Linked DNA regions of Homo sapiens: region 2 is linked to region 1. Evidence: fine-mapped QTL for protein levels in blood plasma. Region 1 holds a variant in brackets. A gene starts in the other region. All regions are shown on their forward strands.

What was found. PIP is the posterior inclusion probability: the model's chance that the variant is causal. Protein levels are from antibody-based Olink assays in UK Biobank. Linkage for the fine-mapping came from a reference panel and not from the study's own genotypes, which makes the PIPs less certain.
Region 2: HYAL1 starts here. The variant in region 1 is fine-mapped to the plasma level of the HYAL1 protein (UK Biobank, PIP 0.92).

What each region holds. Positions count from the first base shown.
Region 1 is chr1:180,189,076-180,197,400 of GRCh38, forward strand. It overlaps QSOX1 (quiescin sulfhydryl oxidase 1), which reads left to right. Exons shown (of 12, transcript NM_002826.5): 9 at 477-599; 10 at 1,358-1,505; 11 at 5,138-5,317; 12 at 7,187-8,325. The coding sequence ends at 7,962. Among named protein-coding and RNA genes, the nearest start is that of LHX4, 37 kb to the right of the region's middle. RefSeq lists enhancers at 3,824-4,495, 4,797-4,966, 6,865-7,034. The variant A/G (reference allele first, on the strand shown) is at 5,180.
Region 2 is chr3:50,302,890-50,311,183 of GRCh38, forward strand. HYAL1 (hyaluronidase 1) reads right to left here and starts at 685. Exons shown (of 4, transcript NM_033159.4): 1 at 577-685; 2 at 1-91. The coding sequence starts at 67. RefSeq lists enhancers at 169-1,103, 921-1,090.

The sequences.
Region 1 (8,325 bases):
AAATGAAAGGTCTCGTGCCCACCTAACCCAGCTGGCCAGTCAGTTGGCAAGTCAGCTCTATCCGAGGACCACCCAAAGACAGGACTGTGTGGCCCAGGGCTCCCAGCAGCCCTGGCAAGGGGCACAAGTGCTCCAGCCTTCCTCCCAGTGGTGGCACATGGTCGGGGGGTGCTGCACAGGAGCCTGAGGTCTGAGAGAGGGAGACTTCCAGGACCCCACCCCATTTAGAGCGAGCACCTTCCCTACCCTGTCTTCTAGCCTTACCAGGTGTCCCAGAGCAAAGGTAGTACAGAAGTCATATTTGTGTCTTAGTTAGAATGTTTTCCTGGTGGTTTTGGAACTTTGCACAACCTCCTCCCCACTGCCCCCCGCCCCCCGCCCCCCGCCTTCTTCTGCATAGCTTCCTACCATCTGCAGGACGGGGAACTTGGGGAATTGCTTTTCACTCTCCAGCTTCCGCTTGTTCCTCCCCACAGTATTTCCCTGGCCGGCCCTTAGTCCAGAACTTCCTGCACTCCGTGAATGAATGGCTCAAGAGGCAGAAGAGAAATAAAATTCCCTACAGTTTCTTTAAAACTGCCCTGGACGACAGGAAAGAGGTGAGTCTGGGAAGCAAATAAAGATCTCTCCATCCTCCGTATTTATGAGAGTGCAAGGGGTTAACCCTGTCATTTCTGACCTTCTTCGCCAGTTTGCACCAGGGAGTCAGTGATCTTCGTTGGGTCCTAACAATAATCAATAAATGACTATTGATTGAGCTCTCTATGCGCACATCTCATTTAATCCTCATAATGTTAGTGGAAGGTAGATATTCTCCCCATTTAGCAGATGAAGAAACAGTACTTTGAAAAGGTTAAGCAACTTGTCTGGGTTCATGGAGCCAGTAAGTGTTTGGGCTGGGATGAAAACTTGGTGAGACCCCAGAGTTTTTAACAACTACCCTGTGCTGCCTCTTAGTTTGTGGTGCTGCTCAGCATGGCCTCCCTGGCCCTCTCCAGGGCACCTTCTGGGCTCCTGCTCATGCTGCTATTTGCAAAAGTGGGTCACTGCAGCCAGCAGAGGTGTAAAACCCTGTAGACTTGTAGGGTGTCAAATCTCGAAGGGACCTCAGAGATAACCCCCTTGTGTTACAGCTGGGGAAGTTGAGGCTGGAACGGGATGCAGCTTGATCTGGGTCACAGCTTTTTAGGTCTGCTGCTGCTTCAGTGGGTGGAACTGGTGAAAGGGAAATGCCACCTTCGAGGTGATAGACTGAGGGACCTCATTTGTCTTAGGGCTGTCTCCTAGAAGCTTCTGTCTCTGCCTCTCCCATCCTTTTCCTTCTCCATATGTGCACTCACACTCATGTGTCCCTCAGGGTGCCGTTCTTGCCAAGAAGGTGAACTGGATTGGCTGCCAGGGGAGTGAGCCGCATTTCCGGGGCTTTCCCTGCTCCCTGTGGGTCCTCTTCCACTTCTTGACTGTGCAGGCAGCTCGGCAAAATGTAGACCACTCACAGGAAGCAGGTACGTCCAGGACCCGTTCACCCCACTGTGCCTCCAACCCTGCTCTGTTCGGCCCTCCAAGGGGAGAGGGGGCAGGGAAGCTCCCTTGAATTGCCCCACTGGCTCCCAGCTGCCAGAAGATGGGGAGAGTCAGCCTTGGGGCTCTGGCTGGATTGCTCTATCTGCAGGTAGCCCCACACGGCCAGAATAGAACCAATCCCAGGAGGGAGCAGACTTTAGGAATTCAACCAGTCCTGTTTTCGGCCCCGGGAGCTCTGGGGCTGAGGCTTCTCCCTGTCTTTCTCCGGGCTTATAGTTTGCTTTGCTTTCAGTCTTCATGAAAAAATTGTGATTCTATTTTTTTATACTCTTAACAAAGAAAAAAACGTGTATTTTACAGTTTACATAGCTGATACATAGCAGGTGCTTTGAGCAATTTTATTGCACTTCCCACTGAAAAACAATTTCCTGGGGGAAGTTGGGGAAACACGTTTCCCCTGCTGCCTCGGATTGTCCACAAACTGCACCACCATGTTCTCCGGCCACGCTGCCCCACACCTGCTTTTGAAGACTGAAAGGATGCGCATCCAATTCAGTCCACACTGATTGAGGAACCAGGTTTATACCAGGCTGCGGCTTGGCTTGGAGGATAGATACATGGGTGAAAAGGGCGACAGTGCCCGCTCTTGGTGGACCTCTAGTGTGAGGCAGGGGGACAGAGAGGCCTGCAGTGCATCAGGGCTAGGGCCGTGGTGGAGAGAAAGATGTGGGGTGAAGAGAGGGCAGGCTCGACGCCATTGGGAAGGGGCCCGAGGCCTTACGGGGTGAGTTGAGGGGTGATGGGTGAGTAGGGATTCCGCCAGGAGAGGAGCATCCCAGCAGAGGGAGCAGCCTGTGTGGAGCCCCGTGAATCAGAGGAACTGCCAGGCAGTGGTGTGGGAAGCCAGTGTGTATGGAGCATCTCCACCATGCCATGTGGCGCTGCAGGTGCCGGGGACACAGCAGCATATGAGACAGGTCCCTGCCCCCACAGGGCCAGTATCTGAGTGGCAGGAGACAGACACAGAGGGATGGCTTCAGCCATGATGACGAATGCTGAGGAAGACAAAGCAAAGCAGTGCCGGAGCGGGTGCTGTCTGGAGAGGGGTCTGGGAAAGGCTTCCCTGTGGAGGGCCCGGTGCTGGGACCCATGTGGAGAGGAGAAGGCAGTGTGGGACGTCTGGGAAGAGAGTCTCCCAGGCTGTGTTGGTGTCCTTGGGCTGCACTCACAAATGTCAGGCTGGGGCTCAGCCAGTAGACGTCTGTTGTCTGAGTTCTGGAGGCTGAAGTGCAAGGTGGAGGTGTCTGTGCTGGTTTCTTCGAGCCTCTCCTTGGCTGGGCGGTGGTCGTCTTCTCCTTGTGTCTCCGTGCAGTTGTCCCTCTCCCAATCCATGTCCAAATTTCCTCTTCCTGCAAGGACACCAGTCCTATTGGATTAGGGCCCACCCTAATGACCTTATTTTACCTTCATTACCTCTTTAAAGACCCTGTCTCCAAATACGGCCACATTCTGAGAGGCTGGGGATTAGGGCTTCAACATAGGAATTTGGGGGGACATAATTCAGCCCATAGCACAGGCTGGAGACCAGCAGGTGCAAAGGACAAGCCTGGTGTGTGGGCAGCACTGAAAGAAGGCTGCTGTGGCCGGAGGGAGGGAGGTGAGGCTGCAGAGACAGGCCGGGGGCGGAGGTGAGCGCTCATGGGCTCAGAGGCCTTGGCGAGGGCAGGGTTTGGAGGTTGGTGTTGGCATTTTGAGAAGCCACTGGAGAGGCTAACGGAAGTGACAGTTGGTTAACACTTTAGAAAGGTGGAGGATGGGCTACTGCAGGCAGGGGGAGGCAGGGCAGCTGAGGAGCAAGCTGCATGCTCGCCCAGCAGTGGTGGTTGGGCCTGGACTAGGGTTGTCAGTGTGCCCCTGGAGGAAGTGGTCAGATTTGGGGATATGTTAAAGGCAGAGCTGAGGGACTTACTGATAGATTGGAGGAAGGGTATGTGGGAAGCAGGACTCGGGTGGACTCCAGGGTTGTGGGGCCTGAGCCTCTGGTGGATGATGGTCCCATAAGCTGAGGAGTCAGGGGCTCGGGTTGGGATGGTGGAATCAATGGCCCGCTTTGTGTCAATAGACCTCCCAATGGAGGTGTGCACAGTTGAGTCTGGAGTTCCAGGGAGAGGTGGGGAATAGAGAGATTAGCTTTATAGTCATTAGTAGCATCAGAGCTCAAGCTGTGGGACTGGATGAGCTCCCTGGCAGGGAGGTAGAGAAGAGTGCTGAGGACTGAATCCTGAGCATCAAACCACCAGCAAAGGAGGCTGAACGGGGGAGGCCATGGTGATTTCAAGGGGGCCCCAGAGTCCAGTGTTTCAAGATAGAGGTGTAGTCACTGGGGCCAGTGCAGCTGGAGGTGGCGCAAGATGAGGACATCTCTAGCAAGGGCTGTGTCGGTGGAGTAGTGGAGGTAATGGCCTTGTTGGATTCGGCTGAAGAGAGACCAGGAGGCAAGATTCTGGAGATAATGAGCAGGAACTGGGGCATGACTGGGTTAGAGGGAACTTCTTTATGATCATCCTTTTCCCCAGTTGGAATGATCCCTTATCAGGGGATAAATGGATGACGCAGTAAAGAAAAAACACTAACGGGAGTGAAATCCTGGAGGTGAGGAGTGGGGTAACCCGAGCAGCAGCGGAGACAGAGGCTGAGCAACGCCAGGGCCGTGTGGTGAGGCCTTGTGGTGGGGAGGTGGGCACCTGTGCTGGGTGCAGAAGAACAAGCTGAGAAGGCAGAGGAGAGAGAGAGAGGCAGGTGTGGGCTGCTGCGGGTCTCACCTTGCCAGGAGTGAGGAGAGTAGGGTGCCAACGTCCTGCTGCGTGGAGGGGTAAAAGCAGGAGATTGGCTTCTAAAGGCCTGGGAGGTTTGCGGTAGGAAGGAGCGAGCTTGGAGGCAAGCACCAGCAGCCCTGGAGCCTGAGGGTGAAGGGCTTAGGAGGGGCGTGTTGGATTAGGAGTGGTGTCCTCAGCGGGGAGCCTGGTTTCAGTTAGAGCAAGAAAGTGGGGCTGGTTAACAGGTCTTTGCTGATGCCAGTCCAGAGGGTCCAGTGGGTGGGAGGGGGTGGGGGGAATGGAAGGGGAGAGCGAGGAGAGATGGAGACAGATTAGGAAGGGCATGTGCAGGCCAGGTCCAGGCCCGAGGGAGGTGACGCATGGTGGAAGCAAGTCGGACAGGCAGCATGAGTGGGCAGGGGAGGAAGGGCCAGGGGCTAGGGCGGTGGCCCTCTGGCCCCTGCTGACCTCTCTCACCATGTCACAAAGAGCCTGAGTTTCCTGCCAAGGAGTGTGGACTTTGTCCTGGGTGTGAGTGACAGGCACCCAGGTTAGTGGCAGGGAAGGGGATCCAGGTTTAGGAGTTTTGGGGGGATGGGGTCTCCTGTAAAGTGACCATGGCAGGTAGAGAAGTAGACAAGGGGACACTGGGCCTCTGCTGGCATAGGCTGGGGTGTGTGGCACCTGTGCAGGGGTGGCCACGGCAGGATGGGGGGCGGCAGGGTGGCCTGGGGAGGCAACGGCTGTGGGGCTGGCAGCCTGAAGGGCTGGTGCGTGGCATCTCCTCTGCCCTGTAGCCAAGGCCAAGGAGGTCCTCCCAGCCATCCGAGGCTACGTGC[A/G]CTACTTCTTCGGCTGCCGAGACTGCGCTAGCCACTTCGAGCAGATGGCTGCTGCCTCCATGCACCGGGTGGGGAGTCCCAACGCCGCTGTCCTCTGGCTCTGGTCTAGCCACAACAGGGTCAATGCTCGCCTTGCAGGTAAGGAAGGACCATCCCCAAGGCTGGAGTCACTTGTGGGGGACGAGGGGGTGAGGATACTTGGGAGTCTTAGGCCAAAATTTGGGGAAGGGACACTCATTGTCCCCTCAGTCACAGCCCAGGCCTGTTAACCAATGCCAGTATCATCAGCCCCATTTTTGACATGAGGAAGCCAAGGCTTTGACACTGTAAGACCCTGGTCTTCCCATGCCGTTGCTCACTTTTTCCCTGCTCTAGGGCCCCTCTCTAGCCTACTGGGGTCCCTCTCCCGCCTCCCCTGCTCCGTCTTCTGGCTGTTGGCCCCTTACTCAAACTGCTAGGGCAGAGGGAGCTGGGGTTCTCTCTCCCTGGGAAGGGTCTGATGAGAGAAGGGGCTGGAGGAGACCAGGTCGTTCCTGGAAATACCAGGCACCGGCTCCCAGGAGGGAGCCTTGCCCTCTGCGTTCCCTCATTATGGTGCTTCCTTTTCCTCATCAGGAGTCTGATGGCTCTAACAGGCAAACACATTAAACTCCAGGGAGCTGGGTCGGGAGGGAGCCATCTGTGGACAGGAGGCGGTTTGTGTGTCGGGAGGGAGCGGTGCACGTGGCTGTGACAGCCTCCCGGGGGGGGGAGACCAGGGCGGAGCCGAGGTTAAAGGAGCTGAATGGAGCAGGTGGTGGTGCAGGCGCCTGCACTTGGTCGTGGTCTCCTGGGGCCTCCTATCGAACTTTGAAAGGAAGACATGTGCCTGTCTTCTCCTTCCCCCACCCCGCCCCTGCCACCAAATGCTCCATTTGACCCTTCAGCCCCTTGACCTCGGCAGGCTCCCAGCTGCTGCTGGAGGGCCAGGAGCCTGGGCCTGTCCCTGAGAGGCCAGAAGCAGGGTGGTTCCCTCCCCTCTCTGGTGGGGTCCTTTCAGAAGAAACTCAAAATTACCAGGCACAAGCTGAGAGCCCCCTCCACAAGGCCTGATCACTATGACTCATGACTGGACCCTTGACTCTGCTTGTTGTCCCCTCCCCAAAGTAACCATTCTGACTTGCATGCCACTTGCTGTTGCTGCTCCTGCTTCCTTGTAGTCAACAACTTGTCCCCCTATTAAAACCTTTAGGAGAAGTGCTTCTACAGAAGGGATGGGCTGATGCATTCCCTGGGCAACACTGCGTGAGGGGCTGGTGGCCGTGGCTCACCCTCTGGGACTCATCCAGAGGCTGCCTAGAGGGCTGGGCCCACCTGGGGTACCAACAGCCTGCAGCCCCAGCAGCATCCTGACTCTTCCAAGTACCCCTCAGGTCTCCCCCCAACTATCCCTTGGAGCCCACCCCTACCCCAGAGGGCTGCTGCTGGGTAAAAGCAAGGATTGCCATGAGCAGCTGCCTCTTGCTTGAAAACGCATTTTCCCTTGAATTGACAAAGTAACCTATTTGTGCAGTTTGTATAATTTGGAAAATGTCAGAAAAATGCAAAAAAAGACAAACACGAGCAGACCGACCAAAGACTGCAAAACAGATCAAAATGAGTATTCTTGCCCTTTCCCATGTCTGGTACTGGGGTAAAGGCTGGTTGTAAAGTCCACATAGCAGGACAGTGGGTCTGGCCAACACCGGGAAATGACTGAGATGGCGCTCTTCACGCTTCCCTGGAAAACCACGGAGGGCCGGGGCTGAGGGGTAGGTGGATCTGCCTCCTCCTCCATGCTGCCATCTGTTGAGCTCCCACTGTGGGCTAGTGTTTGTAATCTGTATTTTCTAATTACCCATCCTCTGGAAGGGCAGTGGCGAGCCCTTTCTGCAGACAAGGAAGCTGGCGTTCTGAGTGGAGGAGTGTGGTCTGGGTTTTTGGGTGGGACTGATGTCACCACCAGCCTGTGTATGCTTCCCTCTGTAGGTGCCCCCAGCGAGGACCCCCAGTTCCCCAAGGTGCAGTGGCCACCCCGTGAACTTTGTTCTGCCTGCCACAATGAACGCCTGGATGTGCCCGTGTGGGACGTGGAAGCCACCCTCAACTTCCTCAAGGCCCACTTCTCCCCAAGCAACATCATCCTGGACTTCCCTGCAGCTGGGTCAGCTGCCCGGAGGGATGTGCAGAATGTGGCAGCCGCCCCAGAGCTGGCGATGGGAGCCCTGGAGCTGGAAAGCCGGAATTCAACTCTGGACCCTGGGAAGCCTGAGATGATGAAGTCCCCCACAAACACCACCCCACATGTGCCGGCTGAGGGACCTGAGGCAAGTCGACCCCCGAAGCTGCACCCTGGCCTCAGAGCTGCACCAGGCCAGGAGCCTCCTGAGCACATGGCAGAGCTTCAGAGGAATGAGCAGGAGCAGCCGCTTGGGCAGTGGCACTTGAGCAAGCGAGACACAGGGGCTGCATTGCTGGCTGAGTCCAGGGCTGAGAAGAACCGCCTCTGGGGCCCTTTGGAGGTCAGGCGCGTGGGCCGCAGCTCCAAGCAGCTGGTCGACATCCCTGAGGGCCAGCTGGAGGCCCGAGCTGGACGGGGCCGAGGCCAGTGGCTGCAGGTGCTGGGAGGGGGCTTCTCTTACCTGGACATCAGCCTCTGTGTGGGGCTCTATTCCCTGTCCTTCATGGGCCTGCTGGCCATGTACACCTACTTCCAGGCCAAGATAAGGGCCCTGAAGGGCCATGCTGGCCACCCTGCAGCCTGAACCACCTGGGGAGGAGGCGGGAGAGGGAGCTGCCATCTCTAGGCACCTCAAGCCCCCTGACCCCATTCCCTCCCCTCCCACCCCTTGCTCCTTGTCTGGCCTAGAAGTGTGGGAAATTCAGGAAAACGAGTTGCTCCAGTGAAGCTTCTTGGGGTTGCTAGGACAGAGAGCTCCTTTGACACAAAAGACAGGAGCAGGGTCCAGGTTCCCCTGCTGTGCAGGGAGGGCAGCCCCGGGCAGTGGGCATAGGGCAGCTCAGTCCCTGGCCTCTTAGCACCACATTCCTGTTTTTCAGCTTATTTGAAGTCCTGCCTCATTCTCACTGGAGCCTCAGTCTCTCCTGCTTGGTCTTGGCCCTCAACT
Region 2 (8,294 bases), not on the chromosome of region 1:
TAAAGCCTTGGGCCATATCGAGTAAGGTCAGGAAGAGGGCGCAGATGGGAAGCAGGTGGGCTGCCATGGCACGGGACTGGTCGAGGACAACCTGGCCAGGGGAGGCAGAGCTGAGAACAGGTTGCAAAGTCTCCGATTCCCCCACTGCTCAGGGCTGGGGGGCTGAGCCCTTGCGCATTAATCCACCGCTGCTCTGGTTTCTGTTAAACATTGACCTGCAGGGCTCCAGGAGGGCAGGGGAGACGCATGGAGGGGAGCATGGCCACTGGAGGGCACATCCGAGTTGCCTCTCAGACCAGGCCTCTGCCATCTCCCACAGGACTTGCTCTAGCCTAAGCTCGCCCACCCCTGCTTCCCCATGAGCCACTGAGGCCATGACATATGTTCTGGGAAGAGTGGCTGACAGCCAGGCCCTCAGCCCCCAGGCTGACCCGACCAAGGGGGGGAGGCCTTCCTGTCTCTTCCACCAGAAATCCTGGCAGCCACTGGAGGAAGATCCAATGGCCTCAGTGACCAAGGACAGGTCAACCCAGCCCTCCTGTACACCCGCCAGTCTGCCCGCTCGTCCCTGCTGACCTTGGGGCTGAAGGGCCTTATCCTCCAAATTTCCTGACCCCAGGATGGGGGCCTAAGCAGGGCCTGGCCAGATTCCACCCCAGCTGCACCAGAGACTCCTGGAGGAAGGAGCCGCTGCTGGAAATTCTGAGCTTTTGTAGGGGGTCACCCCACCCAGGCCAGGGGCGGGCCAAGGGGCGGGCCTTGGATTAGGAGGCCAGGCCAGCCAGGCATCAGGGCTACCTCTGAATCCCTGGCAAAGGGATCTTGGTTGGGGGTGGGGCTGGGCCAACAGTGGCCCCTCCCACGCTGTCAGCACTAGGGCAGGGCTTTGTGGCCTTACCTAGGCTGGAGGAGGTGGGCAGGGGCAGACCCTGCTGGGCAGGCCTGTTTGTGACACTGGAGACCGGGTTCTTTCGTGTCTTGTGCTCAGGGAGTGTTCTTTGTCCACGTGGCTGCATCTGACATTGATGGGCCCTAGGCACTTTACTTTCGTGGATCTTTTCCTCCTTAAAAAAAATATTTTAAAATATGGCCAGGCATGCCAGGTGCGGAGGCTCACGCCTATAATCCTAGCACTTTGGGAAGCCGAGGTGGCAGATCACGAGGTCAGGAGATCGAGACCATCCCGGCTAACATGGTGAAACCCCTTCTCTACTAAAAATACAAAAAATTAGCCGGGCGTGGTGGCAGGCGCCTGTAATCCCAGCTACTCGGGAGGCTGAGGCAGGACAATCCCTTGAACCCGGGAGGCAGAGGTTGCAGTGAGCCAAGACTGCTCCACTGTGCTACTATACTCCAGCCTGGGTGACAGAGAGCGACTCCATCTCAAAAAAAAAAAAAAAAAAAAAAATATATATATATATATATATATATATATATATATATATATATGGCTATAGTCTTAGCACTTTGGGAGGCTGAGGTGGGAGAATTGCTTGAGCCCAGGAGTTCGAGACCAGCCTAGGCAATGTAGCAAGACCCCATCTCTACAAAAAAATTAAAAATTAGCTGGGCATGGTGGTATGTACCTGTAGTCCCAGCTACTTGGGACACTGAGGCAGGAGGAGTGCTTGAGCCCAGGAGGTCATGTCTGGGTTACACTATTATATATTAATTATTAATATATTTACATTTATATTCTTCTTCTGATTAAAAAAACATTTTGTGGGCCCCTGAAAGTACTGTGGCCCTAGGCCTTGGGTCTATTGTGCTTAGTGGATAAGTCATCCCTGTTGTAGGGACCTGTTTCTGAAAGGCACTGTGTTCATGAAGTCAGGGCTGTGTCATCACCCTTTGTATATGTGCTGGGTTAGTGACTGTGTCTTTGTGAAGCCCCATTTAGTGACCATCTGAGCCTCTGCACAAATTCCAGTGGCAAGTAGGTGTGAGTGTGGAACCCAGTGCCTGGGACTGGGTGTGTGTGAGCCCTGCTGTCTTGTGAGCATGAGATCCTGTGTTTGTGTGACCATGCATATGAGCTGTCAGTGAGCACATGCTTGTTCATTCATTTGTGGTTTCACTTGTTCAATATGTGAAAGGAAAATATCTTGGGCCCCTTCAAGCTGGGAACCGCTCAGGACAAATCTGCCTCCCATTCTATTCAAGTCATCCTTTTGCTTACAGACATAGATGCATATTATGATTGCCTCCATTGCCTCTTTTGGAAAGACTACCAGAAACTCAAAAGAATGCAACCATCTGTCTGTCACCTGCCTGTGACCTGGAAGCCCCCAGTGGGGGGCCGTGCTTTGAGCTGTCTCCACCTCTCTGGACAGAGCTTATGTACTTCTGTTTTTTTTTTATTTTTATTTTTTGAGACGGAGTCTCGCTCTGTCGCCCAGGCTGGAGTGCAGTGGTGCGATCTCAGCTCACTGCAAGCTCTGCCCCCCGGGTTCATGCCATTCTCCTGCCTCAGCCTCCCGAGTAGCTGGGACTACAGGCGCCCGCCACCACGCCTGGCTAATTTTTTGTATTTTTAGTAGAGACGAGGTTTCACCGTGTTAGCCAGGATGGTCTCGATCTCCTGACCTTGTGATCTGCCTGCCTCAGCTTCCCAAAGTGCTGGGATTACAGGTGTGAGCCACCGCGCCTGGCCTAATTTTTTTTTAGATGAAGTCTCACTCTGTCGCCCAGGCTGGAGTGCAATGGCATGATCTCGGCTCACTGCAACCTCTGGCTCCCGGGTTCAAGCGATTCTCCTGCCTCAGCCTCCAGAGTAGCTGGGACTACAGGCGCGTGCCACCACACCCAGCTAATTTTTATATGTTTAGTAGAGACAGGGTTTCACCATATTGGCCAGGCTGGTCTTGAACTCCTGACCTTGTGATCTGCCCACCTTGGCCTCCCAAAGTGCTGGGATTACAGGCTTGAGCCACCACGCTTGGCTAAGGTACTTCTTACGTATTGATAGATGTCTCATATCTCCCTAAAATGTATAAAACCAAGCTGTGCCCGGAACACCTTGGGCACATGTCATCAGGACTTCCTGAGGCTGTGTCTTGGATGCATCTTCAACCTCAGCAAAATAAACTTTTTAAATTAACTGAGAGCTGTCTCAGATTTTCTGGGTTCACATTTGGTAACTATGGATGGATTCTGTGTGGAGATGTCCTTGACTTTTGACTAATTGCCTATCTGTGCTTGGTACCAGCAGGAGCTAACTTTATGGCTCAAACCAATAGGACAATTTGCTGAGGTCTGGGAGCACCCCCTCCAGAGAATCCTTGATTTCTCAATTGGTTGAGATCTAAAGTTTATTTTGCTGTACAACTCTTTTTTTTTTTTTTTTTTTTTTTGGAGTTTTACTTGCTCCCAAAAGGAAAGCAAGTTTTTCTGCTTCCATGACGATGGAAGGCAGGTAACTCCTTTATGGAGTTTGAGCTCGCTTCCAACAGGGAAAATTAGTTTTTTTTTCCTGCTTCTGGGATGGTAGAGAGCAGTCTACAGCCTGAGACCCATCACTAGGTAAGAAACTGGCTTGGGATTCTGCCTTGCAATTTCCTTTAAATGACTAAAGTTAGCATTTAACAACCAGCTGGTGTTAACTTCTGCTTACACTTACAGCACTCAGAAATCATATACTTTGTGTGATCATTGTTACTTTAGCAGCATTTTGTTCTAGCTGAAATATGGTAATAAGATTAAAAAAATTTTTTTTGGCTGGGAGTGGTGGCTCACACCCGTAATCCCAACACTTTGGGAGGCCGAGGTGGGCGGGTCACCTGAGGTCGGGAGTTTGAGACCAGCTTGGCCAACATGGTGAAACCTATCTCTACTAAAAATACAAAAATTAGCCCGGCATGGTGGTGGGTGCCTGTAATCCCAGCTACTCAGGAGGCTGAGGCAGGAGAATTGCTTCAACCTGGGAGGTGGGGGTTGCAGTGAGCCGAGATCATGCTACTGTTACTCCAGCCTCAGTGACAGAGCAAGACTCCATCTCAACAACAACAACAACAACAACAAAAACACAAAAATTATCCAGGCATGGTGGCCCACACCTATAATCCCAGCTATTCAGGAGGCTGAGGCAGGAGAATCACTTAAACTTGGAAGGCGGAGGTTGCAGTGAGCTGAGATTGCGCCACTGCCCTCTAGCCTGGGTGACAGAGCAAGACTCTGCTAAAAAAAAAAAAAAATAAGCCGGGTGCAGTGGCTCACACATAATCCTAGCACTTTGGGAGACTGAGGCAGGAGGATCATTTGAGGTCAGGAGTTTGAAACCAACCTGGCCAACATGGCGAAACCCTGTTTCTACTAAAAATACAAAAATTAGCCAGGCTTAGTGGTGTGTGCCTATAATCCCAGCTACTTGGGAGGCTGAGGCAGGAGAATCGCTTGACCTGGGAGGCAGAGGTTGCAATGAGCTGAGATCATGCCACTGCACTCCAGCCTGGGTGACAGCAAGACTCAGTCTCAAGAAAAAAATAAAAAATAAAAAATAAACCAAAATAGGGCCGGACGCAGTGGCTCACGCTTGTAATCCCAGCACTTTGGGAGGCCGAGGCGGGCGGATCACAAGGTCAGGAGATCAAGACCATCCTGGCTAACATGGTGATACCCTGTCTCTACTAAAAATACAAAAAATTAAGCTGGGCGTGGTGGTGGGCGCCTGTAGTCCCAGCTACTCGGGAGGCTGAGGCAGGAGAATGGCGTGAACCCGGGAGGCGGAGCTTGCAGTGAGCGGAGATCATGCCACTGCACTCCAGCCTGGGTGACAGAGCAAGACTCCATCTGAAAAAAAAAAAAAAAAAAAAAAAACCCAAAATAAATAAAAAGGAGGGATGTTCAGAACAAATTGGAAAGTCCAACCATGTCATGAACAGTCAGTGTAAGTCACAAAAAACCCAAAAACTTTTTTTTTTTTTTTGAGACGGAGTCTCGCTCTATCACCCAGGCTGGAGTGCAGTGGCGCAATCTCGGCTCACTGCAAGCTTGCCTCCCGGGTTCACGCCATTCTCCTGCCTCAGCCTTCTGAGTAGCTGGGACTACAGGGGCCCGCCATCATGCCTGGCTAATTTTTTTGTGTTTTTAGTAGAGACAGGGTTTCACCATGTTAGCCAGGATGGTCTTGATCTCCTGACCTCGTGATCCACCTGCCTCGGCCTCCAGAAGTGCTGAGATTACAGGTGTGAGCCACCGTGCCCGGCCAAAAACCCAAAAACTTTTATATAATCAAGTTGTCGTATACTTTTTTCTTCAGGGTAGAGTCTTGCTTTGTTGCCCAGGCTGAAGTGCAGTGGTGCAATCTTGGCTCACTGCAACCTCTGCCTCCTGGGTTCAAGTGATTCTCCTGCCTCAGCCTCCCCAGTAGCTGGGTTTACAGGCATGTGCCACCACACCTGGCTAATTTTTGTATTTTTGGTAGACATGGGGTTTCAGCATATTGGCTTGGCTGGTCTCAAACTCCTCGCCTCAGGTGATCCGCCTGCCTTGGCCTCCCAAAATGCTAGGATTACAGGCGTGAGCCACCATGTCAGGCCACGTTGTCGTATTATATATTATTATTATTATTATTTTTTGAGATGGATTCTCGCTCTGTCACCCAGGCTGGAGTGCAGTGGCGCGATCTCAGCTCACTGCAAGCTCCACCTCCCAGGTTCATGCCATTCTCCTGCCTCAGCCTCCTGAGTAGCTGGGGCTACAGGCGCCCACCACCGCGCCCGGCTAATTTTTTGTATTTTTGGTAGAGACAGGGTTTCACCGTGGTCTCGATCTCCTGACCTCGTGATCTGCCCACCTTGGCCTCCCAAAGTGCTGGGATTACAGGCATGAGCCACCGTGCCTGGCCTTTTTTTTTTTTTTTAGACGAAGTCTCACTCTGTCACCCAGGCTGGAGTGCAATGGCAGGATCTCGGCTCACTGCAACCTCTGGCTCCTGGGTTCAAGCGATTCTCCTCCCCTAGCCTCCCGAGTAGCTGGGATTACAGGTGCACACCACTACACCTGGCTAATTTTTGTATTTTTAGTAGAGACAGAGTTTCAGCATGTTGGTCAGGATGGTCTTGAACTCCTGACCTCGTGATCTGCCTGCCTCGGCCTCCCAAAATGCTGGGATTACAGGCGTGAGCCACCGTGCCTGGCCAACAGCTTTTAACAATTTAGTACAGTCCTATGAACAAAATTTGGAGCATATTTGTTTCTCTACCTGATTTCTCCAGAATTTGGAAACTATTTGTGAGTATTCTTAACTTATGGCAATACAGTTATTTGCATAAGTGCCATAAGAATCTGTTTTTGCCTGGCATGGTGGCTCACTCCTGTAATCCCAGCACTTTGGGAGGCCAAGGTGGGCAAATCACCTGAGGTTGTGAGTTCGAGACCAGCCTGGCCAACATGGCAAAACCCCATCTCTACTAAAAACACAAAAATTAGCTGGGCATGGTGGCACATGCCTGTAATCCCAGCTACTCCAGAGGCTAAGGCAGTAGAATCGCTTGAACCTGGGAAGCAGAGGTGGCAGTGAGCTGAGATTGCACCATTGCACTCCAGCCTGGGCAACAGAGCCAGACTCCACCAAAAAAAAAAAAAAAAAAAAGAATCTGTTTTCATTTGTAACAGGACACAATTGGAGGAATTGATTATTTGACCAAGACTTTGACAGGAATGGTGTGCTTTCGTTTAAGGAATCAAACTTAACTTATGGAGCCAATAAAGCCCTTGGGAAAACTGGCCTCACATTTTGTGTACACAGTCCCTGTACAGGATTTCTTACCTGTGGTAAGTAAAGAATGTCACTTTCTGGGGCCAGGAGTGGTGGCTCATGCCTGTAATCCCAGCACTTTGGGAGGCCAACGCGGGAGGATCACCTGAGGTCAGGAATTCAAGACTAGCCTGATCAAAAAAAAAAGGATGTCACTTTCTGACAGGCACAGAGGCCCCAGGTTTATGTTTATCTTGGAACTTGAAAGGAGAGGAAATTCCATCCAACTCATGGGTATTTGATGGCACAAATCCATGGCTGGGCAGGGCTTTAAAAAGTCTTACCTGAGATTCCTCTTATGGGACAAAATAAATTATTCTTGCTGCACTGTATACAAATATTTAGGCCAAGTATAATAAGCAAACAAGTCATACCATGATTTGTCTTTAGTAAAATGGGAAATTGGAGAGAGAATAAAATCATGTTTCAAAACGAATGTTCACCTGTTGTTAGATTCTAGTCTTAACTGTTTTTTTGTTTGTTTGCTTCCAATTTTTATGATTTTCTACAGTTTGGAATGAATTTTTCTTGGCTACAAGTCTTCAAATTAAGTTTTCAATTTTTTTCCTTCTTTTTTTTCATTTTCCTAATTTGGAGTCACTGAAAACTAAGCTGTGTGTTTTTTTTTTTTTTTTTGAGACAGAGTCCCGCTCTGTCACTCAGGCTGGAGTGCAGTGGCAGGGTCTCAGCTCACTGAACCTCCGCCTCTCAGGTTCACGCCATTCTCCTGCCTCAGCCTCCTGAGTAGCTGGGACTACAGGCAACCACCACCACGCCCGGCTATTTTTTTTTTGTATTTTTAATAGAGATGGGGTTTCACCGTGTTAGCCAGAATGGTCTCGATCTCCTGACCTCGTGATCTGCCCGCCTCGGCCTCCCAAAGTGCTGGGATTACAGGAGTGAGCCACTGCAATCGGCCACTGTGGTTTCTTTTCTTTTTTTTTTCTTTTTTTTTTTTAATTATTATTTTTTTATTGATCATTCTTGGGTGTTTCTCGCAGAGGGGGATTTGGCAGGGTCACAGGACAATAGTGGAGGGAAGGTCAGCAGATAAACAAGTGAACAAAGGTCTCTGGTTTTCCTAGGCAGAGGACCCCACGGCCTTCCGCAGTGTTTGTGTCCCTGGGTACTTGAGATTAGGGAGTGGTGATGACTCTTAACGAGCATGCTGCCTTCAAGCGTCTGTTTAACAAAGCACATCTTGCACCGCCCTTAATCCATTTAACCCTGAGTGGACACAGCACATGTTTCAGAGAGCACAGGGTTGGGGGTAAGGTCACAGATCAACAGGATCCCAAGGCAGAAGAATTTTTCTTAGTATAGAACAAAATGAAAAGTCTCCCACGTCTACATCTTTCTACACAGACATGGCAACCATCCGATTTCTCAATCTTTTCCCCACCTTTCCCACCTTTCTAGTCCACAAAACCGCCATTGTCATCATGGCCCGTTCTCAATGAGCTGTTGGGTACACCTCCCAGACGGGGTGGTGGCCGGGCAGAGGGGCTCCTCACTTCCCAGTAGGGGCAGCCGGGCA